Regions from separate parts of the Homo sapiens genome. Here region 2 is linked to region 1. The links come from fine-mapping of genetic effects on gene expression. A gene starts in region 1. The other region holds a variant in brackets. All regions are shown on one strand. Distances are between the middles of the regions. Region 1 holds the start of F11-AS1 (F11 antisense RNA 1). Region 2 overlaps F11-AS1 (F11 antisense RNA 1).

The links. PIP is the estimated chance that this variant, and not a neighbour inherited with it, causes the effect.
Region 2: its variant is fine-mapped to the expression of F11-AS1 in testis (GTEx, PIP 0.99).

Annotation. Positions count from the first base shown.
Region 1 is chr4:186,496,254-186,507,497 of GRCh38, reverse strand. F11-AS1 (F11 antisense RNA 1) reads left to right here and starts at 6,440. Exons shown (of 4, transcript NR_033900.1): 1 at 6,440-6,653. It also overlaps the pseudogene RNU6-1055P.
Region 2 is chr4:186,421,191-186,432,434 of GRCh38, reverse strand. The region is part of intron 1 of F11-AS1 (F11 antisense RNA 1); the gene reads left to right. Among named protein-coding and RNA genes, the nearest start is that of F11-AS1, 74 kb to the left of the region's middle. RefSeq lists an enhancer at 4,062-4,601. The variant G/A (reference allele first, on the strand shown) is at 5,934.

The sequences.
Region 1 (11,244 bases):
TATTGCTTCTGTCACATTTGTTCTCAGCTTTCTGAAGGAACACCAGTTTTTTCCAAACATTGGCTCTCTTTTCTGTACATCATCTGTCATTTTCTGACTTGTTTTCATCTTTTCAGTCATTTCATATGCATTCTTCAGAAATTTTATTTTTCACATGACTGATTTGATTTTTTGCAGCATAATTCCTTTTTTCAATCTAATACTGGCAAGTTTTCGTTTAAGTTGCTTCTCTCCTTATGATTTTTCTTCTCTTCTTTCATGGTAATGGCCTGCTCTAGGGTGGAGTCCCAATCCCCACACTCTGATAGTCACATTCTTGTATGATTCCCTCTCCTTGAGTGTGGGTGGGACCTATGTCTTTTGTATAGCCAACAGAGTATGGCAAAGGGGCTGGGGTTTTGCTCCATGATATGCTATGTTCTAGAAGACTCTGGCTGGCTAGTCCACTCGCTCTAGAAACTCTTCTTGCTGGCTTGATGAAGTAGGTGCCCTGTGTGGCGAACAGCTGTGGGCAGCATCTAGGAACTGTAGGCGTCCTCAAGAGCCACAGGCAGCCTCTAGGAGCTGAAAGTGGCCTCAGGCACACAGTTGGATGAACACAGGGACCTCCATTCTGCAACCACAGGAAAACGAATGCCACTAACAACCTGAGTGTCGGAGCAAATGCTTCCCCATTTGCGCCTCAAGTGAGAATGCCGCCGGCTGACATCATGATTGCTGTCTTGTGAGAGCTGAAGCAGAGGACCCAGCTAAGCCTGATTCCTGATGCTTGCAAAATGCAAGGGAGTAGATGGGTGTTGCTTTAAGCCGTGAAGCTGGGAGCAATTTGTTATGGAGCAATGGATACCCAATACATTAATAGAGGATAAAATATCTTTAGGATACCAAGAAATTGTTGATATATTCTTCTGGATCTTGACAGAGATAACTTTCAGAGATATGCTCTTTTTTAGAGATTCCTAGATGATCCCCCATTTATTTTTTTCTGAAATACTAGCTTTTCCATGGATTCCATGTAGGTTACTCTCCACTTTTCTATCCTAGGATTTGTAGGTGCTGTCTAGGTGTTGAAAAGATGGGACTGGAAATGGGAGAAAGAAACCACCGTCTGTCATTTTCACATAGCAATACAGTAGAGAGAGATAACTCTACTATTTGGTCTGTGCAAGCTCTAAAAATTTGAGGCTGATGGAGGGAGGGCAGGAATAGAATTGGTGTGGAAAGGGCAATAATAGGGGCATGGATTGAGGAAGGGGATACAGACATACAGCTGACTTTTTTTTTTTTAAGAGATGGGGTCTCATTCTGTTGCCCAGGCTAGAATGCAGTGGCATAATCATAGCTCATTGCAGACTTGACCTCCTGGGCTGAAGCAATCCTCCTGTCTCAGCCTTCCAGATAGCTAGAACTACTGGTACACACCACTACACCTGGCTAATATATAGCTGATTTATGCATAAGTGTAGAGGTGCTTCAACTGTGGCTGAGGGAAGTTATTCTGTGCCATCCTATAAGAGATAGACAGCACTGAAAGATGACTAGCAGATAGAAGGCAAATAGAGAACCTGCTCACTGCAGCTTGGCAAGAGTTTAGAATGTTACAGAATGAACCATGGACCAAACAAAAATGACCAAAAGAATCTGCACAGGGGCCGGGCGAGGGGGCTCACGCCTGTAATCCCAGCACTTTGGGAGGCTGAGGCGGGCGGATCACGAGGTCAGGAGATCGAGACCATCCTGGCTAACATGGTGAAACCCTGTCTCTACTAAAAATACAAAAAATCAGCTGGATGTGGTAATGGGTGCCTGTAGTCCCAGCTACTTGGGAGGCTGAGGCAGGAGAATGGCATGAACCCGGGAGGCGGAGCTTGCAGTGAGCCAAGATCGCACCACTGCACTCCAGCCTGGGCGATAGAGTGAGACTCCATCTTAAAAAAAAAAAGAATCTGCACAGGTCTATCACCTGTCCACAGGAAAATCGTTAATTAGACCTAAGTGCACATTTACAAAAATGTATAAGCAAGTCATTATTGCATGCAAGCCTAAGCTGCATGGCAATAGTGATTTGGCCTCAGATGAAGAGGCCTGGATGTCAGGGGGAGCAGGTTAGATGTAAGGGTCTTGGAGAGTAGAATGAAGCAAAGCCCTCTGCTGACACTCCCAGTGGGCAGGCACCTCCTCCTCTCATTTCTGGGTTGGGTCCTGGATACATATAATTGCACTATGGGGTTCTTTTCTTCGGGGGGTGGGGACAGAGTCTCCCTCTGTCTCCCAGGCTGGAGTGCAGCGGCGTGATCTCGGCTCACTGCAATCTCCACCTCCCGGGTTCAAGCAGTTCTCCTGCCTCAGCCTCCCAAGTAACTGGGACTACAGGCACACACCACCATGCCCAGCTAATTTTTGTAGTTTTAGTAGAGACGGGATTTCACCATATTGGCCAGGCTGGTCTCAAACTCCTGACCTCGTGATCCGCCCGCCTTCGCTTCCCAAAATGCTGGGATTACAGGCATGAGCCACTGTGCCCGGCCACACTATGGGGTTCTTAAAGAAACCTTCTAAAATAGCATAAGTTTGATTCCTTTTATTAATTCTGTTCTCCAGAACCTTGGGCCGGTTGCTACAGGTACTTCGGTTTCAGAAAACAAACACTTTCAGCTTTTCCAAGTGGTCTGTTTCTGATGGACTGTCCTTAGGTAGGATGTGCTGAATTCTGGCCAAGATTTTTCTCAGGCAAGCTTCATCTTTGTTATTATTATCGCGAACACCATGCACAGTCTGACACTAGGTGGTCTGTCGTATGTTGTTAATGTTAACCTTGCCCCCCTGATTTTCTTGGCATTTTGGTTAGAAGTTAAAGGAAAATGGTTTGAGGATGTTAGCTGGATGTCAGCTGGATGTCTAGCATCCTCAAACCATTCTCCCTTCTTTATACACAGCAGCTGAGTAATAGGACTCAGCTGCCTTCTTTATACCATTGATGGTCCTTAAACCAGAACCATCAACGGTATAAAGAAAGCAGCTGAGTCCTATTACTGATTCTAATCTGGTTTATTGGACTGATTTAAAGGGATGGGCAGATATAGAGATACAGTGTGAACACAGTGATTTCTATCATGTTTGGGTGCTGAATCTTTAGAGGCACATACATAGATTCCTCCAGTGTCCTGATAAGAATGCCAGGGTAGCTCAGGGAGATGGATCGGAATGGGGAACAGCTGTTGAAGGCCCGAGCTACTGAGCTTGGAGGAGAAGATACTTGATTGGCATTTAATAGACTTCTTTTGGAAAAAAGTGAAGGCTACACAGGCAAGGTTTGTATCATATGGCTTCATGGAGCTAGTGAGTGAAATGTTATGAAGAGCAGAAGCCTTTGACAGAATTGCAGCCAAACAGATAAAAATGTAGGCCATGGTGATTAATTTCATGTCTCAACTTGGCTGGATCACTGTACCCAGATATTTGGTCAGACGTTATTCCAGATGTTTCTGTAAGGATATATTTAAAATGAGACTAACATTTAAATCAGTAGGCTTTGAGGAAGCCAATTCCCCTCCATTATGTGGGCAGCCTTCATCCAGTCAGTTGAAGAAGGGCTTAAGAGAAAATCGACCGCCCTCTGAGAAAAGGGGATTCTGTCAGCAGGTGGCCTTCAGACTTGAACTGCAGAACCAGATCTTCCCTTAAAATACATCTCTTTAGGCTGGGCACAGTGGCTCATGCCTGTAATCCCAGCACTTTGGGAAGCCATGGTGGGAGGATTGCTTGAGCCCATCTGAGACCCGTCTGGGCAACACAGTGAGACCCCATCTCTAAAATAAAAGTATTAAAAAATAATTAAAAATTATTTCAAAAAACTCTCTATATGTGCATGTGCACACACACACACACACACACACACACATTGTGTTAAGGCTCTCCAGAGAAACAGAAGCAATACAATGTACAGAGAGAGAGAGAGATCTATTTTGAGGAATTTGCTCACAAGACTGTGGAGGCTAGCAAGTCCAGCATCTAGAATGGGCCAGCAGGCTGGAGACCAAGAGGCACTGCTGCAGTTAACGCTGGCAGCCATCTGCTACGGAAGCACGTCTTGTTTGGGGGATATCAGCCTTTGTTTCATTCAGGCCTTCAGCTGCTCAGATGAGCCCCCCCAACATTATGGAGGGAAGTCTGCTTTACTCAATGTTCACCCATTGAAACGTCAGTCTCATCCAAAAACACCCTCACAGGAATATCCAGAATAACATTTGACCAAATATCTGAGCATCCTGGTGCAGCCAAGCTGACATGTGAAATTACCCACCACGTGCATCCCATTGCTCCTGTTTCCCTGGAGACCACTAACACACTGACCAATAGCTTTGGTTTCTGGCAATGGGCTTGAAAGTTTGGATAACAGAATCACTCATCAAGACATGGTTAGTAAGCTTATAAACTAAGAGTGCTAATTAATATAGAATTACATAGAGGATAAAGTGTGTTTGCTTTGTGCATATAGTTAAGGACCCTGGGTATTAGTCTCCATTATTAATTATACTCACCTCATCACTAGGGACCATCTAACACGCGCCAGGGCCTGGGACTATGACGAGAACAAGGCAAATGCCTGCCTTCATGGAACTCACATTCTTCTTTCTGTTGTGATCTTACATGTTGAAATAGGTGTCTGTTCCTCTTTCCTTCAAGTGTGCTGTGATTTATAAGTGTTTCCTTCTCCCATCCTAGCTTTATCGAGATATAAAGATTGTGTATATTTACAGCGCACAATGGGAAGTTTTGATATATGCACGCACTGTGAAACGGTTACCACAGTCAAAGTAATTAACATCCATCACCTACATAGTTATTGGTTTTTCTTGTGGTGAGAACATTTGTCTCTTAACAATTTCAAGTATACAATAATACATTATTATTGACAGCACCGTCTCATACATAGATCTTCAGAACACACTCATCTTATCTGACTGAGACTATCCTCCCTTTGACCAACCTCTCCCCATGCCCCATGCCTCCAACTCCTGGCAATCACCATTGTACTCTGCACTTCGACCTCTTTGAAACAAGTAATTCTTTCAAAGAACTCCTGCACTGGTCAGCACTGGAAAAAGTGTTGCTAGTTAACTAGCTGATGTGTAGCAGAATGAGTTGCATTATCTATTAGAAAATATGGAGATTGTAACAGGAGGTATTTCTTCTACTTCCTAAGGGCTGAAATGTTCCTAGATATTTACCTTGAATATGTCATTTTAATTTTCTGAACATAGTCCAGTTATATGTCGCTGCATAATGCTGGGGACAGCAAGTAGATGGCTAACACAGGAGAGCCATTACCCATGGAAGAGAGATCTCTGTCTTCTGTACTAAAAGGGCAACGACATTTCCTCTATTAGATGTGGGCTCTCTTCCTTTCCTTGCCTTGATGTTTCTTTTTCTTTATTCATTCCCCCTTTGGTTAATTTTCAGAAAAACCATATCTCCAAATATGTAAACTGAATAAACTGGTGTCCTATGTTTGAGATAAAAGTTATTTTTTGTCTTGTAAGCTTGTTGTACTTTTTCTCCATTGCTGTGTAACTAATGCCCCCTGGATTTAGTGGCTTCAAACAGCACACTTTGATCCATTCACAGTCCCTGTGGCTCAGGAGTCCAGGCGTGGCTTAGCAGCATCCTCTGGCCCAGGTTCTCTACAAGGCTGCAGTCAAGGCTGTGGCCAGTGCTGCGGCCATCTCACAGCTGAACGTCGGGGATCAGGGGACGCATTCACATCCAGGCTCGCTCATGGGACTGCTGACAGTCCTCTGGTCCTCTCTGGCTGGTCCAGGGACATCATTTCATTGTTATGCGGGTCTCCCCGGAGGCCACTCACACCCAAGATGGAAGCCACATTCTTTTGTAAGAGTGACCCCTTACTCTGCCATATTCTGTTCATTAGAAATGAGTCACTAGGTCTAGCCCACACTGGGGGAAGAGCTTCCACTGCAGTGTGGCTCCCAGGAGAAAGGGGATAGTGGGAGCTCACTGAGAAGCAGCCTACCACATTTGTTATTATTTTCAATGTCTAACAAACCATGGATCCCTGTCAATTCTTCAATTTCAAATATTTTCCCTTAATCACCCCTTACTTTCCATTTCACTGCCAACACCTCGATCTCTGTCTTCCTCACCATAAGGCAGATTCGTAACAGCTTCCATAACTCGCCATGAGCCCCGCAGAGCCCTGGTTCCCCGCTGCTCGTTATTATTCCTGAAACGCCCAGTACCACTTCCTGTTCTTACTCATTTATTTATTTGGAACACTTCAGGAATTCGCGTGCCGTCCTGGCACAGGGGCCCTGCTGATCTTCCCTGTACCGTTCCAATGTTAGTCCATGCGCTGCCGAAGCGAGCACGCTTCCTGTTCTTGTTCACGAGCCTGCAACGCCCACCGTTGCCTGCTTCCAACTGTGCCTCACGTTCCTTCCAACGGCGCCTTCCATCCCAGCTGGGCGGGGCTTCGCCGTGTTACCTTCTCAACATGGCGAGCTTGCTGGACGTCACGTCGCCTTCGCCTTTTCCGCTGCGGACTCTGCTCACCGACCTCCTCAGTAGAGCCGGCCCTGCTCACTACCGCGCCCACGTGTCCTGTTGTGCTTCATTCCCACAGGCCGCATAAGGTAACATTTACATATGTTCTGGCTGCTTGACTGATTCTAATTTCCCTGTCGATGCTTTTCTTCAACGAGGCTGAAACCCGTGTAACTTCCTCTATTTCTGTGCATATGCGGCATCTAACAATATTGAGCACATAATTCCTCAAATGCTCGTGGCTTCAGGTGAAGATAGAGCTCTGGGCTTCCTAGCTGCCTAAGCCAAAAAAAAAAAAAAAAAAAAAAAAAAAAGCTAGGAAGGAGAGATAACATAAAAGCTAAAAGAAGGACTATTTTGAGCCTGGGCGCAGTGGCTCACGCCTGTAATCCCAGCACTTTGGGAGGCCAAGGCAGGTGGATCACCTGAGGTCAGGAGTTCAAGACCAGCCTGGCCAACTTGGCGAAACCCCATCTCTACTAAAAAATACAAAAAATTAGCCGGGCGTGGTGGTGGGTGCCTGTAATACCAGCGACTCGGGAGGCTGAGGCACGAGAATCGCTTGAACCCAGGAGGGGGAGGTTGCGGTGAGGCGAGATGGTGCCATTGCACTCCAGTCTGGGCAGCAGAGAGAGACTCCGTCTCAAAAAAAGAGAGGACTGTTTTGAGATATTTCCTAATAATTCTATCTCAAAATGTACAGAGACGGACATACTACGATTGTTTTTAGTAATGCCACATTTTTCTATTATTTCTTCTTTTTAGTCATTCTATTTCTATGATAGACATAGAGAATGATATCTCAACGAGATGATTTTGTCCCCAAAGAGATATTTGGCAGTATCTGAAGACATTTTTGGTTTTCACAGCTCAGGGGAGGGAGGGTTACTCCAGGGACCCAGTGGGTAGAGGCCAGGGACACTACAATGTATAGAATAGCCTCCAACAACAAATAATTACTTGGCCCTAAATGTGAACGATGCGGAGATTGGAAACCCAGCTTTATCTCGGGCACAGGAGTGGTGTAGCAAAGTCAGGGCGAGCCTGGATTCTGAAGTCACAGCGCTTGTGTTCACATCCCAGCTGTGCCATTCACTAGCTGTGTGACCTTGGACAAGTTACTTAGCATCCAGGTTTCCTCTTAAGTGATCGGAGTAATAGAACTCACCATTAAGCGTTGTTGGGAGGATTAGATGAGTTAATAGTTGTAGAGGGCTTCAAGCAGTGTCTGGAACATAATAAGAGCCATCACAAGTGTTTGTGGAGTGAAAACCCCTTTGCAGGAGTTCTGTGTGATGTAAGTGGAAGAAATCATCCCTTCCGGTGATCTCCCCTAGTCACGATGGAGTAGAAAACCTGAGCAGAATCTCATGGGCAGAGAGTAGCCTTAATTGGCTGCATCAATCCCTTGTGGCTGAATGACAAATTCATTGTTATTACCTTTGGTCTCACCACCATCTGCAAGTTGGAAATTGTAGCTAGTTTTAATTCAGCGTTAATGTGTCAACTGAACATTCTGGCATTTCTCTGAGGGGATCTAATTTGACGATGTAAAAAAGGAGGTGAACCAGCTCTTTTAAATAAGAGCAGGCTTGCAGGTGACTAACATGCTCTTTAGATTTCAGACCAGGAGAGCCACCCATTGTTAGTTACAGCAACCAGGTCCAGCACAATGGAGAGACCACTCAGAGGTGCCCACACCATCAGGACAGGAGCTATGCAGAACAAAGACACTCCCTTCTGAAAGGGACCATGTTCTGTGGCTTGCTCCAGATTTTTAATTTACAAAGCAAGTGTGTGTGTGTGTGTGTGTGTGTGTGTGTGTGTGTGTGTTCAAATCACTCATCAGGTTAACTTGACATCTGAATTGCAATCCTGCAGTGTGCTTTTGCAAGTAGATGAATTTCCCCTGCATCAGAACAGAATTTTCTTAGGTGTAGGTTTTATGTTATGATTCTTTTTGGGAGTTGCAATCATAGGAAAATTAGGAGGACTAAATCAAAAAGTGTTTTAAAAAGCAGATAACTTTCATCACTTGATAATACATACATCTGGTTACATCTTAGTCTTTCCTAATTCAACTTAAGAATGAAGCTTGTAAAAGTAATTGGCACCTGGCTGCCTCTGCTTTTCATTTAAGTCTCCATGCTGGAAGTCAGGATGGGTACGTAACTGACAAATAATTAATTTGCTTCTTAATTATTTACATCAGTTTCCCACTGTCCTGTAGAAACACAGAGAGACTCTGGGAGCAGCTAAAATATGTATTTTCAGGGTCTCCTTACGATTATGCTAACAAGTCTTATGGTGTCCAGAGCAAACATTAGCCAGGTGCGGCGGCTCACACCGGTAATCCCAGCACTTTGGGAGGCTGAGGCGGGAGGATCACTTGAGCCCAGGAGTTCAAGACCCTGTCTTACAAAAATTAAAAAAAAACTAAAACCATTAATTGGGATTTCAGATAACAAAACATAATTTAAGGAAAAACAATAGCACAATACTAAAAACCTGTAATATTGTTCTCTAAGAAGTGACATTGGTTGGTTATAAGCAAGTTTGGGTTTGAAGCATGTGAGCTCGTGGTATTAGTTAAAATTTCATGTCCCCTTCAATGCCCTTCCATGCAAGACTCCTTTGAGACCTTCACTGCAGGTGCTATGAAAAGAAAATATTCTGTTTGCAGCAGAATAGCAAAATGAATGCTGTGCACATAATTTTAGTGCTTATTTCAGATTTAAGTTATAGTTATTGTGTATTTTATTCATGTTGCTTTATGTGAACAAAAATAAAATTATTCAACACTAGTTCCAATATAATTATATAATTTTTTACTTCCAGTAAAAGTAATGGCCCATGTTTGAGAATGAAATCTTAGCGAGGTGAAACTATAAGTCTCTCTGATAGTCTAATTTTCTAGTTAATAATTTTTCTCCATAAAAAGCTAAAACTTAAAAAAAATTCCAACTCTTTTTTCACGGAAAACATATAAATTTTTAACATTTGAAACAGAAGAAATACAGGCATACGATTGAAATTTCAAGTGTAATAGGAGTGTTGCCAGGAAAAGGTGTTCCAATCCAGACCCCAAGTAAGAGTTCTTGGATCTTGTGCAGGAAAGAATTCAAGGTGAGTTGCAGAGTGCAGTGAGGAGAGAGAGTTTACTGAAACCTACCCAGATACAAAGTAGGGCATCCTCAGAAAGCAAGAGGAGGAACCCCTCATCTTTGTCTTAAGTTTTTCTTATATAGGGGTCTTATCTATGTAAAAGCTAAGCTACATTATGTCTACACGCCAGTGGGCTGACGGTGTGACAAAATTTATTCCTCGTTGGTTTAAAGAAAGCTGTCCTTGGCACTTTAGTGCACAAACACACCACAGCATGACTATAATTATCTTTAAAAGCATATATTGCTATGTGATATTGGGACATTGGGACATTTTGCTGTCATAAGAGTTTGTCCTTGCAGGCATTAGGCGTTTTTCTCAGCTATTAACATTCTATGACCATGGGTGGTGACATGGTTTGGCTGTGTCCCACCCATGTATCCCCCACCCAAATCTCATCTTGAACTGTAGTTCCCATAATCACCACGTGTCATGGGAGAGACCCAGTGGGAGGTAATCGAATCGTGGGGGCGGTAACCTCCATGCTATCCTTGTGATAATGCGTGAGTTCTCACGAGATCTGATGGCTTTATAAGGGGTTTTCCCCCACTTCACACTTCTCCTTGCTGTACTTCTCCTTGCTGCCACCATGTGCAGAAGGACGTGTTTGCTTCCCCTTCTGCCATGATTCTACATTTTCTGAGCCCTCCCCATCCCTGCGGAACTGGGAGTCAATTAAACCTCTTTCTTTTATGAATTATCCAGTCTAGAATATGTCTTTATTAACAGCATGAGAAGAGGCTAATACAGGTGGTAACTGGCAAGGAATGTGCCTCATTAGGTTTAAGATGGAGTTGATTTTAAAGTGGTGTCACCCTGACTCTCCTAGGCTCCTGTTTCCCTAACAGGAGGGTATGCATTCATACGTATTGTTAGATATCCGTTGTGTCACTTGAGCAATCTTGAAGGTCTTTCCCTATCAACATAGACAGCTACTGTATTTCCCAGTGAACACCTACCTTTTTCATTGTATGGATATTCCATGATTTTAAACCAATCCTTTACAAACAAAACTTTAGATTTTTTCTGGTTTTTACAATGACTAAAAATGACACAGTGACTTTGCTTGTCCATATTCCTTTCCTAGTTGCGAGTGTATATGTAAGATAAATGTGCTGAAGTAAAGTGGTATTTGAATTGAAAATGATAGTTTTATTCAACATTATATTCAAGTTTCTAGTTTTACACCTTTGCCCACACATCAATCTTTTCAGTTTTCGATGATGTGATCTGCAAAGAGGTTTTAACGGCAAAAACCACAATTACTTTTGCACCAACTGAATACATTGTTTTCATTTTTCTAAATTTACACAGAATCCTTCCACATATTAATTAGCCATTTTCATGCCTTTTAATTTTCTGTTGAATTTTACCTCTCTAAATTAACACTTTCCTGTCACGTGTTTCAAATTTGAGAGCAATGTTATGTTTTGCTTTATTTTGTATCTTGTCTGTCCTCCATATCTTTTCCTTTCAATGTCTTTAATCTTTTTCTTCTTCCTCTTTGCTAGCATT
Region 2 (11,244 bases), 75 kb after region 1:
TGATGGTTATGGGTGGGTAATGTCGTGTGTGCGGTGTTAGGAAGTATGATGGTTATGGGTGGGTAATGTCGTGTGTGCCGTGTTAGGAAGTATGATGGTTACGGGTGGGTAATGCCGTGTGTGCACAGCGTTGGGAAGTATGATAGTTATGCGTGGGTCATTACTGACAGTTGAGCTTGACATGTCCTGTCTCCAGAAGTGGGTGCCGAGGCTCCCTTCCCACTGCCATTCCACTGGCCCAGAGGAAGCTTCTGTTGTGTTCAGATGGGCAGGCACTCTTCCTCGAGAAGGTTTGTCCCCCTTCGCTATCTCAGCCCCCAGGGAATGTCCTGTGAACGCTCCCCCACTTATTCAAGCCACATACATTCTCTAAGACCACGTATGAGTGCCGCTGTCCCCATCGGGACCTTATGAAATACACACATCCAGATGAACTCTCCTCTTCCCTGAACTAACCAGCTTATTTGCTGTTGATACAGTACTGTCTTGTGATGTCTTAAATAGTACCCCCACCGCTAGACTTCAAATATTTGAACACAGACCATTTGACACCTACTGAATAACTGCTGAATCCATGCATGAGTTTTTGATCTATTTATTAGAAATTGATAATGTCATTTGAACAATCATGCCAATGCTAATGATACTTAATATTAATTTTCTAAGTTAAGTAGCCGGAATATCTAAATGCCTCTCCTTGGCGATTACTCGATGAGCGCCTGTCCTTCCTCCACTCTTCCAGCAGACCTGCCTTTTGGGGCTGATGGAAATATGCATATTAGATTATCTGCAGAAACTGGCTCAGCACTACAAGGAGGTAAGAACATTCAGAACCAATAAATGTTAAAATACGAATGGGTACTAGAGTTTCTTACTCCAATTCCTCATTTCAAGATTAGAAAACAAGAGCCCTGGGAGGCAGGCAGTTTTCCTGTAGTAACCCGGATGTCAAGGGCTGGCGTGGGCTTCTCCAAGTCCAGTGCTCGTTTGTAGAACAGTTTCTGGACTAATTTGAGTAATTGATGCAGAGCCTATTTTGATTCTCTCTAGCCAGCGTGCATACGTGTTCCTCACTAAGCACATTTTTACAGTAGATATTTTTTAAATATCAAGGCAGGTGGATAACCTGTGGACAGGAGTTCAAGCCTTGCCAACATGGTGAAACCCCATCTCTACTAAAAATACAATAATTAAGTAAATAAATTAGCTGGGCATGGTGGCACCTGTAATCCCAGCTACTCAGGAGGCTGAGGCAGGAGAATCACTTGAACCTGGGAGGTGGAGGTTGCGGTGAGCAGAGATTGTGTCACTGCACTCCATCCTGGGTGACAAGAGCAAAACTCCATCTAAAAAAAAAAAAAAAAAAGCCGTGCGTGGTGGCTCACACCTGTAATCCCAGCACTTTGGGAGGCCGAGATGGGTGGATCACCTGAGGTCAGGTGTTCGAGACCAGCCTGACCAACATGGAGAAACCGCATCTCCATTGAAAAAAAAAAAGATTCAAAATTAGCCGAGCATGGTGGCGCATGCCTGTAATCCCAGCTACTGGGGAGAGTGAGGCTAGAGAATCACTTGTACCCGGGAGGCGGAGGTTGCAGTGAGCTAAGATCGCGCCATTGCACTCCAGCCTGGGTAACAGGAGTGAAATTCCTTCTAAAAAAAAAAAAAAAAAAGAAAAGAAAAAGAAGAAGACAGTTGTTCCAAGCATTCAAGCATTGGGTGTCTGAGCAAAGGAGAGATGCAGCGCCTGCCGGAGCACACTTCCCTGGGTCAGCGCAGGAGCCTCTCCCTGTTCTTGCGGCTTCCACTCCACTTCGTCAGCCACGGCCTGATCCCGACTGGGCCTCTAATCTGGGGTCTATATTTTCACTGGCTTATTTTTTTTTTTCCAGTGACTCAGTCTGAGCAGCAAAATTCTAAATACTGTTGACTTAATTGATTATCCAAATAGGGAAAATGCAATAATGATAGAAATAATGTCATTACCTAGGTCATGCTAAGTGCAAAGTTATTACTGATCAAACGATCGGCCAAGAAAAAATAGACTGACTATAGAAACTCCATATGTTTTTAGATTGGCATTTGTTTCTTCTTTCCTCTGGAAGGAAAACAAAAACTAAGTATGGGTAAAAGGGCGGATCATGAGGTCAGGAGATCAAGACCATCCTGGCTAACACGGTGAAACCCCGTCTCTACTAAAATATAAAAAAATTAGCTGGGCATTGTGGTGGGCACCTGTAGTCCCAGCCACTCAGGAGGCTAAGGCAGGAGAATGGCATGAACCCAGGAGGCGGAGCTTGCAGTGAGCTGAGATCGTGTCACTGCACTCCAGCCTGGGCAACAGAGCGAGACTCCGCCTCAAAAAAAAAAAATCCCATAAAGAAAATAACACCTGATTTATCCACACAAAGTTGACATAATCAGGGTTACACTGCTTTTACAGTTGTGCCAGACTACTCTTTTTTTTTTTTTTTTTTTTTTTTTGAGATGGAGTCTCACTCTGTTGCCCAGGCTGCTAGAGTGCAATGTGCAATGGCTTGATCTCGACTCACTGCAATATTTGCCTCCCAGGTTCAAGCAATTCTCCTGCCTCAGCCTCCCAAGTAACTGGGATTACAGGCACACGCCGCCACACCCAGCTATTTTTTTTTTTTGTATTTTAATAGAGATGGGGTTTCACCGTTTTACCTAGGCTGGTATTGAACTCCTGAGCTCAGGCAATCCACACGCCTCGGCCTCCCAAAGTGCTAGGATTACAGGAGTGAGCCACCACTCCCAGCCAGTGCCAGACTACTCTTAGACATCAGCGACAGGGACAGCAGCTTTTCTGGGACGGCAGTGAACCGCAATGCCCTTATTCCTTCCACGTGCTCCTCGCAGCATCAAGGAAACGTGCCTGGGGCAGGGAGGAGTGTGGAGGATGCCTAGAGTCCTAGCTGGGAGCTGGCAGGGTACCTTACAGGGAAAACCAAGATACACAGCCTGCATTACACCAGGATCATCAGTCTGTGCTACTTTAATGCCTTGTTTTATCATCTTCAGGTGAGGGAAAACGAGATTTTTTTTTTTTTTTTTTGGAAATTTGAGATAATTTTCTCCATCTCTTCTTATGTGTGTTTATTTATTTATTTTATTTCCCAGAAAAAGACAGTCATTATTCTTGGCTCGCAGGATATAATAAAGATCAAGGTCTTTTATTGCCTTACCTTCGATTCTGGTGCACAAGTGTTCGCAGAACCAAGCTGGGTCTCGCTGCGTTTTCTTGGGGCCCAATAATAAGAAGCAGACAAACTAGGAAAGAAGGGAATTTATTGCTGTAACCGGATGCAGGGAGAAGGCCAGAGAGAATTCCACCAGACCAACTCAAAGTGTTACAATTTTCTTAGTGCTAATATAGGTTGAGGTTATGCGCCTGCGTGCAGTATAGCATTGCCTAAGTCTATTGGTAACGAATTTTGTTTCAACTAGAAGGTCAGAGGCAAAGAAATGCTTCCTAAGTTCGATTGAGCTGTGAGGCCCCAGTACCTTCAAGGCCCGTCTACTGTGGCACCGGAGTGATCATTTCTACTTCATCTCCTTTACAGCTTGGCCCAGAGAGCTACCTTAGACCCTCCAATGAATCTATTCAAACAGCTGCCTCTGTTACCTTGACTCGTCTCAGATTTTGTCGACCCGAGACGGGTCCTGGCACTAGGAATGTAAAACTGTCTATTATTTCAGCTTGCTCCAGGTTAGGGAGAAGGCCATGTAAGGCTCCTACTGACCGTCTTATGTTTCATTTCTAGCTTTGACGTCTGGGCACTGATTTCCCTAGGTTTAACTATTCGTTCCATGTGACGGCCGTGCTGTGGAAATCTATCTGTGTAACTGGAGCGCTCTGCAGGCCTGTCTGTGTGACCATCAGGAGGCCTGTCTGTGTGACCGTCATGCAGGCCTGTCTGTGCGACCGTCAGGAGGCCTGTCTGTGTGATCGTCAGGAGGCCTGTCTGTGTGATCGTCAGGAGGCCTGTCTGTGTGACCGTCATGCAGGCCTGTCTGTGTGACCATCAGGAGGCCTGTCTGTGTGACCGTCATGCAGGCCTGTCTGTGTGACCGTCAGGAGGCCTGTCTGTGTGACCGTCAGGAGGCCTGTCTGTTCGACCATCAGGAGGCCTGTCTGTGTGACCGTCAGGAGGCCTGTCTGTGTGACCGTCAGGAGGCCTGTCTGTTCGACCATCAGGAGGCCTGTCTGTGTGACCGTCATGCAGGCCTGTCTGTGCGACCGTCAGGAGGCCTGTCTGTGTGATCGTCAGGAGGCCTGTCTGTGTGATCGTCAGGAGGCCTGTCTGTGTGACCGTCAGGAGGCCTGTCTGTGTGACCGTCATGCAGGCCTGTCTGTGTGACCGTCATGCAGGCCTGTCTGTGTGACTGTCAGGAGGCCTGTCTGTTCGACCATCAGGAGGCCTGTCTGTGTGACCGTCATGCAGGCCTGTCTGTGTGACCATCAGGAGGCCTGTCTGTGTGACCGTCAGGAGGCCTGTCTGTGTGACCGTCATGCAGGCCTGTCTGTGTGACCGTCAGGAGGCCTGTCTGTGTGACCGTCATGCAGGCCTGTCTATGTGACCATCAGGAGGCCTGTCTGTGTGACCGTCAGGAGGCCTGTCTGTGTGATCGTCAGGAGGCCTGTCTGTGTGACCGTCATGCAGGCCTGTCTGTGTGATCGTCAGGGAGAATTGGCCTGCCGCGCAAGGGCTGGTGTGAGTTTACCTTTGAGAAAGAGCAGGAAATGTTGAGTCATTTCACACAACCTACAGAGATAGCACACTAGGCTGCGGCTGGGTATTTAGTCCCTGCAGGACAGTGAGCCTGGGATAGGCCTGGCCAGATCTAGGGGTCCTGGTACCACATTTGACCCACACAAACCCCATCTAGAGTGATCCCTGACATCATATAATTGGAGGGACATATTTTCCCCAACAAATGCCTGGCATCTCGCTAGAGACGCATGTGTTTGGATTATTTCCCACGCTTTTTCTTGCGGAGTGGCTGTGTGATTTGGATCTTGCAAATTGAGGGTCCGGGGTGTGCTGTCACCTCCGTAACTTAGCTCATGGAGAGATTCCTCGCCTGTCAACTTAGGATACCGAAGTCGAAAACTTCAGAGTTTCCTTCCAGCTCTGAAATGGGAAGATTTTATTTTTTTAAAAGAAAGTGTTCACCTCACTAAAAGGTTTTTCTAGGAAAAATAATGCTGAACTGGCTCTCTGGGAGGGTAGGGCAGAGGAGAGGAAATAAACCCCTCATTTGCAGTGTTTGCCGATTACCATGGTATAAATGCCCCCTCTGGTCAATTTCAGGCTGCCAACATGAAGACACTGGATGCGGAATCAGGAGGAGATGTATACAGCTCAGTCTCCAAAGCCAGGACAAGCCAGCTCCAACACACTACTGGCTGAATCTCACCAATCGTTATAGTTTTGTTTTTTGTTTTTTTAAATGTATTTAAGCATTTTTAGGTGTTTTAAATTTTATGTGTGTATTCTAGGAATATGTACTCAGATTCTTTCATTAGGCATGTGTTATTAACAACATTCATCTTCTTAAAGGCTGAACCAACTTTGCGCGTTTTATCAACAGATATTCACTGAGCACCTAATATTGCCAGGCTGTGCTCAAGGCAGTGGGATTCATCAGTGAACAATACAGACAAAAATCACTGACCTAAATGGAGCTTGAAGTTTATATCTAAATCATTCAAAGATTCTGTGGTGGAAAAGAAGTTAGAAATCTTTCAGCTGCAAAACATAAGCCAAAATACAACTCACCTTTGGAATCAGAGAACTTACAGGTTCATAAAATTGCGAAGCCCAGATGTGCACCTGAGGTGAGACTTCGTCCAGCTTCTGTCTGTGTCACTAATCTTTCCTGCTTTCAGCGGCATCCCTCGCAGGCCC[G/A]TGTTGTTCCCAACTGGTGTTCCCACCTGGCGGCAAACTGGTGACTGTAGTTACAGATCTTCAACATCACACTCAGGAGAAGAAGGAGATTGCTTTTCAGGAGCTCCTGCAAGCCGGAGAATAAAAGCTCTTATTTATTCAGAAGCCCTAAAACATACCACCTTGGCTATAGACTATTTGGACATTTCTAAGCAAATCTGTCTGCAAAGGTGCTGAGCTGTGTTGATCAACTGAAGCCCGTGACGTCTCATCCTTGCAGTTGGAGGTAGGTCTTCTGTCCACCCAAATCAGATGGATGAAATAGGGAAGGCTGTTCTCCTCAAGGAGAAGCTAGTTTGAAAAAAGCAATAAGCAGGCTAGGCACAGTGGCTCACGCCTATAATCCCAGCACTTTGTGGGGCCGAGGCAGGCAGATCACGAGGTCAGGAGGTCGAGACCGTCCTGGCTAACACAGTGAAACCCCGTCTCTACTAAAAAAATACAAAAAAATTAGCCAGGCTTGGTGGCAGGTGCCTATAGTCCCAGCCTCTCAGGAGGCTGAGGCAGGAGAATGGCGTGAACCCAGGAAGCAGAGCTTGCAGTGAGCCGAGATCAGGCCACTGCACTCCAGCCTGAGTGACAGAGTGAGACTGTGTCTCAAAAAAAAAAAAAAAAAAAAGAGAGAAAAAAGCAATAAACAGATGCTAGATGGTAAAAACAGCAAATGTCCATCACTGCCACCTTCAGCACACCTGAAATGGGAGTTATCACACCCCCCAAAATGAACAGAGATTTACTCTTTCTCCCTTTCTGGTCAATGACAACAAAGGCATGGCCTCTGGGTCTCAGAGGAGCTTATAATCTAATAGGCAATCTTGGACTGGCCAAAATAGTCAATACTTTAAAAAATACTAACTGGAGGTTAGCACATTTGGAATCCATTATAATTAACATGCTTTTCTTAATTAGTCCGAGGGAAAAATAGAGAACACATTGAGTAAGGATCAGAGGTTCTTCTTTTCACATTTAATTTTTTTTAACAATTCTTGGAAATTTCTTGGTGGCATTCAGGTTTTTTTTTCTGTGAATCAACAAGCTAAACTGAGAGTCAACTGTTGTGAAGGCAAGTCAGAATAAACCTGACAGTAAACACACTATATGGATGCTTGTGGTGGTTTCTGGAGAAATATGTAAAGGCTGAAATGTTTGATGTTTGAGAAAAAATCATTGTCTTTAAGGAAGGGCATGAAATATGAGAAATATATCAGTATGATCTGTTTTAAGTTAATAATGACTATGTAACTGGTTTCTAAGTTTTAAGGTTTTTTCTCCAAAAATATCTACACATAACTGATTTTACATCATATTTTTCACTTCTAAGTGAATATCTACAAAATACATGTAGGCTAAGTTTCATCATTAAAATGTATTAATTTCTCTGCTTCAGCTGATCATGAAAACATGAGATTGACAAAGATAGTCCTTGGCTTTGAGATGTAATTATCCTTAAGTTACCAAGTACAAATCTCGTTTGAATATGATTACCTGCTTCTTAATGTGATTAAGTTTCAGTCTGGTTCGTGACGTCACTAGTCTCATCTAGCATCTAGATGTACTTTTATATTTTTAATCTAAATCCCACCAGAGTCTAGCTGTAACTTAATACTGTTTCTCCTTGTTATATCCTCGAGGGAAATTTAGGATAGGAATTAACTGAGAGATTTCAGTTATGATTCCTGATGACATGCAGTCTTTTCTGTAAGGAAATTTCTACCCACTGTCCTTGCTGGGGTAGACGTAGGTTGCTTGGTTTGCGTCCCTTTGAGTCTTAGCCGCTGTGAACAGAGGCGTTGCATCTGCTGCTGCATCGCAAACTACCCTAAAACTTAGTGGCTTAAAACAACCATTGTATTAAATTTCATCATTCTGTGGGTCAGAGATTTGGGTAGTGCTCCTGTGGGTGATGCTGTTGCACGTGGCATTGACTCAGGATGGTGGATGGTATTCAGCTGATAGCTGATCTGGTCTGAAGGGTCCAAGATAGCTTCACTCCTGTAGCTGGCACCTTGGCGGGGGCATAGGAAGGCAAGACTCAGCTGGACTCCTCTCCTATCTGTGTTGTCCAAGAGCCTTTTCACAAGGTCTTTCTAGCAAAGTGGCAGCTCATGGTTCCAAGGGCAAGAGTGTGGTTCTACCAGAGACCCAGATAGAAGTTGCGAGGCTCCTTCTGACCTAACCTTGGAAGTTCTTCTTCTGAGTTACTTCTCTTGTATTCTATGCATCAAGCAAATCTCAAAGGCAAAGCCAGTGTTAAGGAGAGGGAAATCAGACTTCATCTTTCGATGGGAGAAGAAAAGAGTTTGCAACTGTCTCTATTCTGCCACTGGCAGAGAATCCATAGGTTTGCTAAGGATACAGAGCCACATTGAAAAGGTAAACTGTGAAAATCCCATTCATCTGTCAATAATCTGGGAGGGAGAAAATGATAAGAGGGGCCAGTGAGCCATGATAAAGTGGGGCACAGGTGACCATGTGAGGCCAGTACAAGTGGCTGTGGGGAAGAATCCACTCTGAGGAAAGGGAGAGAGCAGTCATAGGTGGGGAGCAGATAATCTTGCACGAGGGAGAGGGAGACAGAGGGGGTAGCTGCCTAATTCTCAAGGGCCTTTTGATCCTTTTTTATCTTTAAGATAAACCTTGCTATGCTGGAGATTACTTAGGTGGGCCAGGATTTCTTGAAACCAAAACTTTACTGAATCACCTCTTCACCATCTGTATGCCGTGCATTTGCTGAGTAAGTTTTGACTTTTAAAACAAAATACTAAATATTACTGCATCTTTTGCAATAATAAAATTTACTTTTACTTCTCAAAGTATTCCCAAGATGGAATAATAGTTCATGAACTCTACAACCATAACATGCTGAAAAATCACAGATTTAGTTCATTCTATGCCAAAATATATGGGTAAACATGGAAAAACTCAGCTGATGTGTAAGGATTTTTCTACTCAGTATCGAACATCTAGCTATTTGAGCACATGTTGGCTGATTGTCACCCGCTTCGTCCTTCCATGCTAAGAGTGGGTGGCAGGAGAACAAGCTGGACGGTCTAAGCCCACACTCACAGGAAATTGACCCATGACCTCGTGAGTCCAGTTGCACCTTGTTTCAATTGTATGATGGTTATAAAAAATGTTAGAAACTGGGGCAGGCACGGTGGCTCACGCCTGTAATCTCAACACTTTGGGAGGCCTAGGTGGGCAGATCACGAGATCAGGAGTTCAAGACCATCCTGGCCAACATGGTGAAACCCTGTCTCTACTAAAAATACAAAAATTAGCCGGACGTAGTGGTGGACACCTGTAGTCCCAGCTACTCAGGAGGCTGAGGCAGGAGAATCGCTTGAACCCGGGAGGCGGAGCTTGCAGTGAGCCGAGATTGCGCCACTGCACTCCAGCCTGGGCGACAGAACGAGACTGTGTCTTAAAAAAAAAAACAAAAACAAAAAAAAAACTTAAAAACTGATTCTTGAAGACATAAACTATAAAACATTAGCATTCCCTACATTTCATAATCAAACGTTCCACTTTCCTTTCTTTAAAAGCATAATGCCATTTAGATTTTTTAAAAAGCTAAAACTTTAGGGAACTATATGATCAATGGGAAAAATTTAAGTATTTTCTAAAAAGCACTGGATCTATTTCTAAAACAGATTTTAGTCTCCAACTAAAAATTCATGTACACATCAATATCATATCATTCAACAAATATGCTGTCACCCTGTAAAATTCTATAGAATAATTTGATTTTAAAGTCACCTGAGTGGTTAGACCTGAGTCTTTGAAATTGGATTTTTTTTTCCTTGTGAGAAGCACAGAAGTTTGTATCCCACATATAGCCAGGCTAGTGAAGAGGGAAAACAGTTATGGATCTTGTTAAAGCTGATATAAACATAAGCTGATCGTTCTGGCCAGAATCAAAGTTGGCTTACATAGTAGCAATAAAATAAACATAGCACGGCCCTAAACCTAACCTCTTCTATTGAGTGAGAAGTGATGATTTTCCCATGTTTTAAAATGAGAGAAACTTATAGGAGGGTCAATCACCATTGCTGAAAGTGTTTGTTCCTTTTTTGGAGTCTGATGTAGGCACAGAACAAGTGGCCAACTCTGGGTATTTTTAAGTAGTTGTTTGGGGAATTGCCTAAGGAAATTTTCAACACTGAATACCCCATTTTTGTTACAAGGAGAAATGAAGACATAGACCTGTATTTATATATTGTTGCTTCCTTTCACATCAGAAGGAACCATTGATTTTTCTCCAGCTCAATGCTGATGTCCAATTTCAAGCATTAAATTTGCTTATAATTTTGAAATTTTTCAATCTAAAAAAAGCATATAAAAAGTTAAGGAATACATTGTTCTGTGAGGGCGTGGTGGCTCACACCTGTAATCCCAGCACTTTGGGAGGCCAAGGCAGGAGGATCACTTGAGGTCAGGAGTTCAAGACCAGCCTAGCCAACATGGCGAAACTGTGTCTCTACTAAAATACACAAAATAGCCAGGCGTAGTGGTGGGCACCTGTAATCCCAGCTAGCTACGCGGGAGGCTGAGGCAGGAGAATCACTTGAACCCAGGAGGCGGAGGTTGCAGTGAGCCAAGATCACATCACTGCCCTCCAGCCTGGATGACAAAGCCAGACTCCATCTCAAAAAAAAAAAAAAAAAAAAAAGAATAATTGGCAGAGATTTTTATAGGATGAATAAAATGCATTCTAAATCAATACCTAAATCATAGATTGGAAGGTCAGAACAAATCACAAATGGCTTGGATATCATCTTCTACTTTGTTTTATTTGTTTGAGACAGGGTCTCGCTCTGTTGCCCAGGCTAGAGTGCAGTGGCGTGATCCCGGCTCACTGCAATCTCTGCCTTCTGGACTCCAGTGATCCTCCCACCTCAGCTTCTCCGGTAGCTGGGACTACAGGCAAGCATCACCATGTCTGGCTAATTTTTCTTTTTCTTTTTTTTTTTTTTTTTTGGTAGAGGCTGGGTCTCACTATGTTGCCCAGGCTGGCCTCAAACTCCTGGGCTCAAGCAATCCTCCCACCTTGGCCTCCCAAAGTGCTGGGATTACAGGTGTAGGCCCTGCCTCAGCTCCTACCTTGAAGGACAGCATGTTCAAGTAAGTAACAATGTATTCAGAGCCCTCTCTGGAAGAGAAATCACTGCTTTTATGAAACCTGAGTTTTCATTCTGATTTATTAGATACCACCCCAACTTAACATTGAAAGAAATGCTTATCTTTTCCTACACAAGAGCAAACTTGGAGA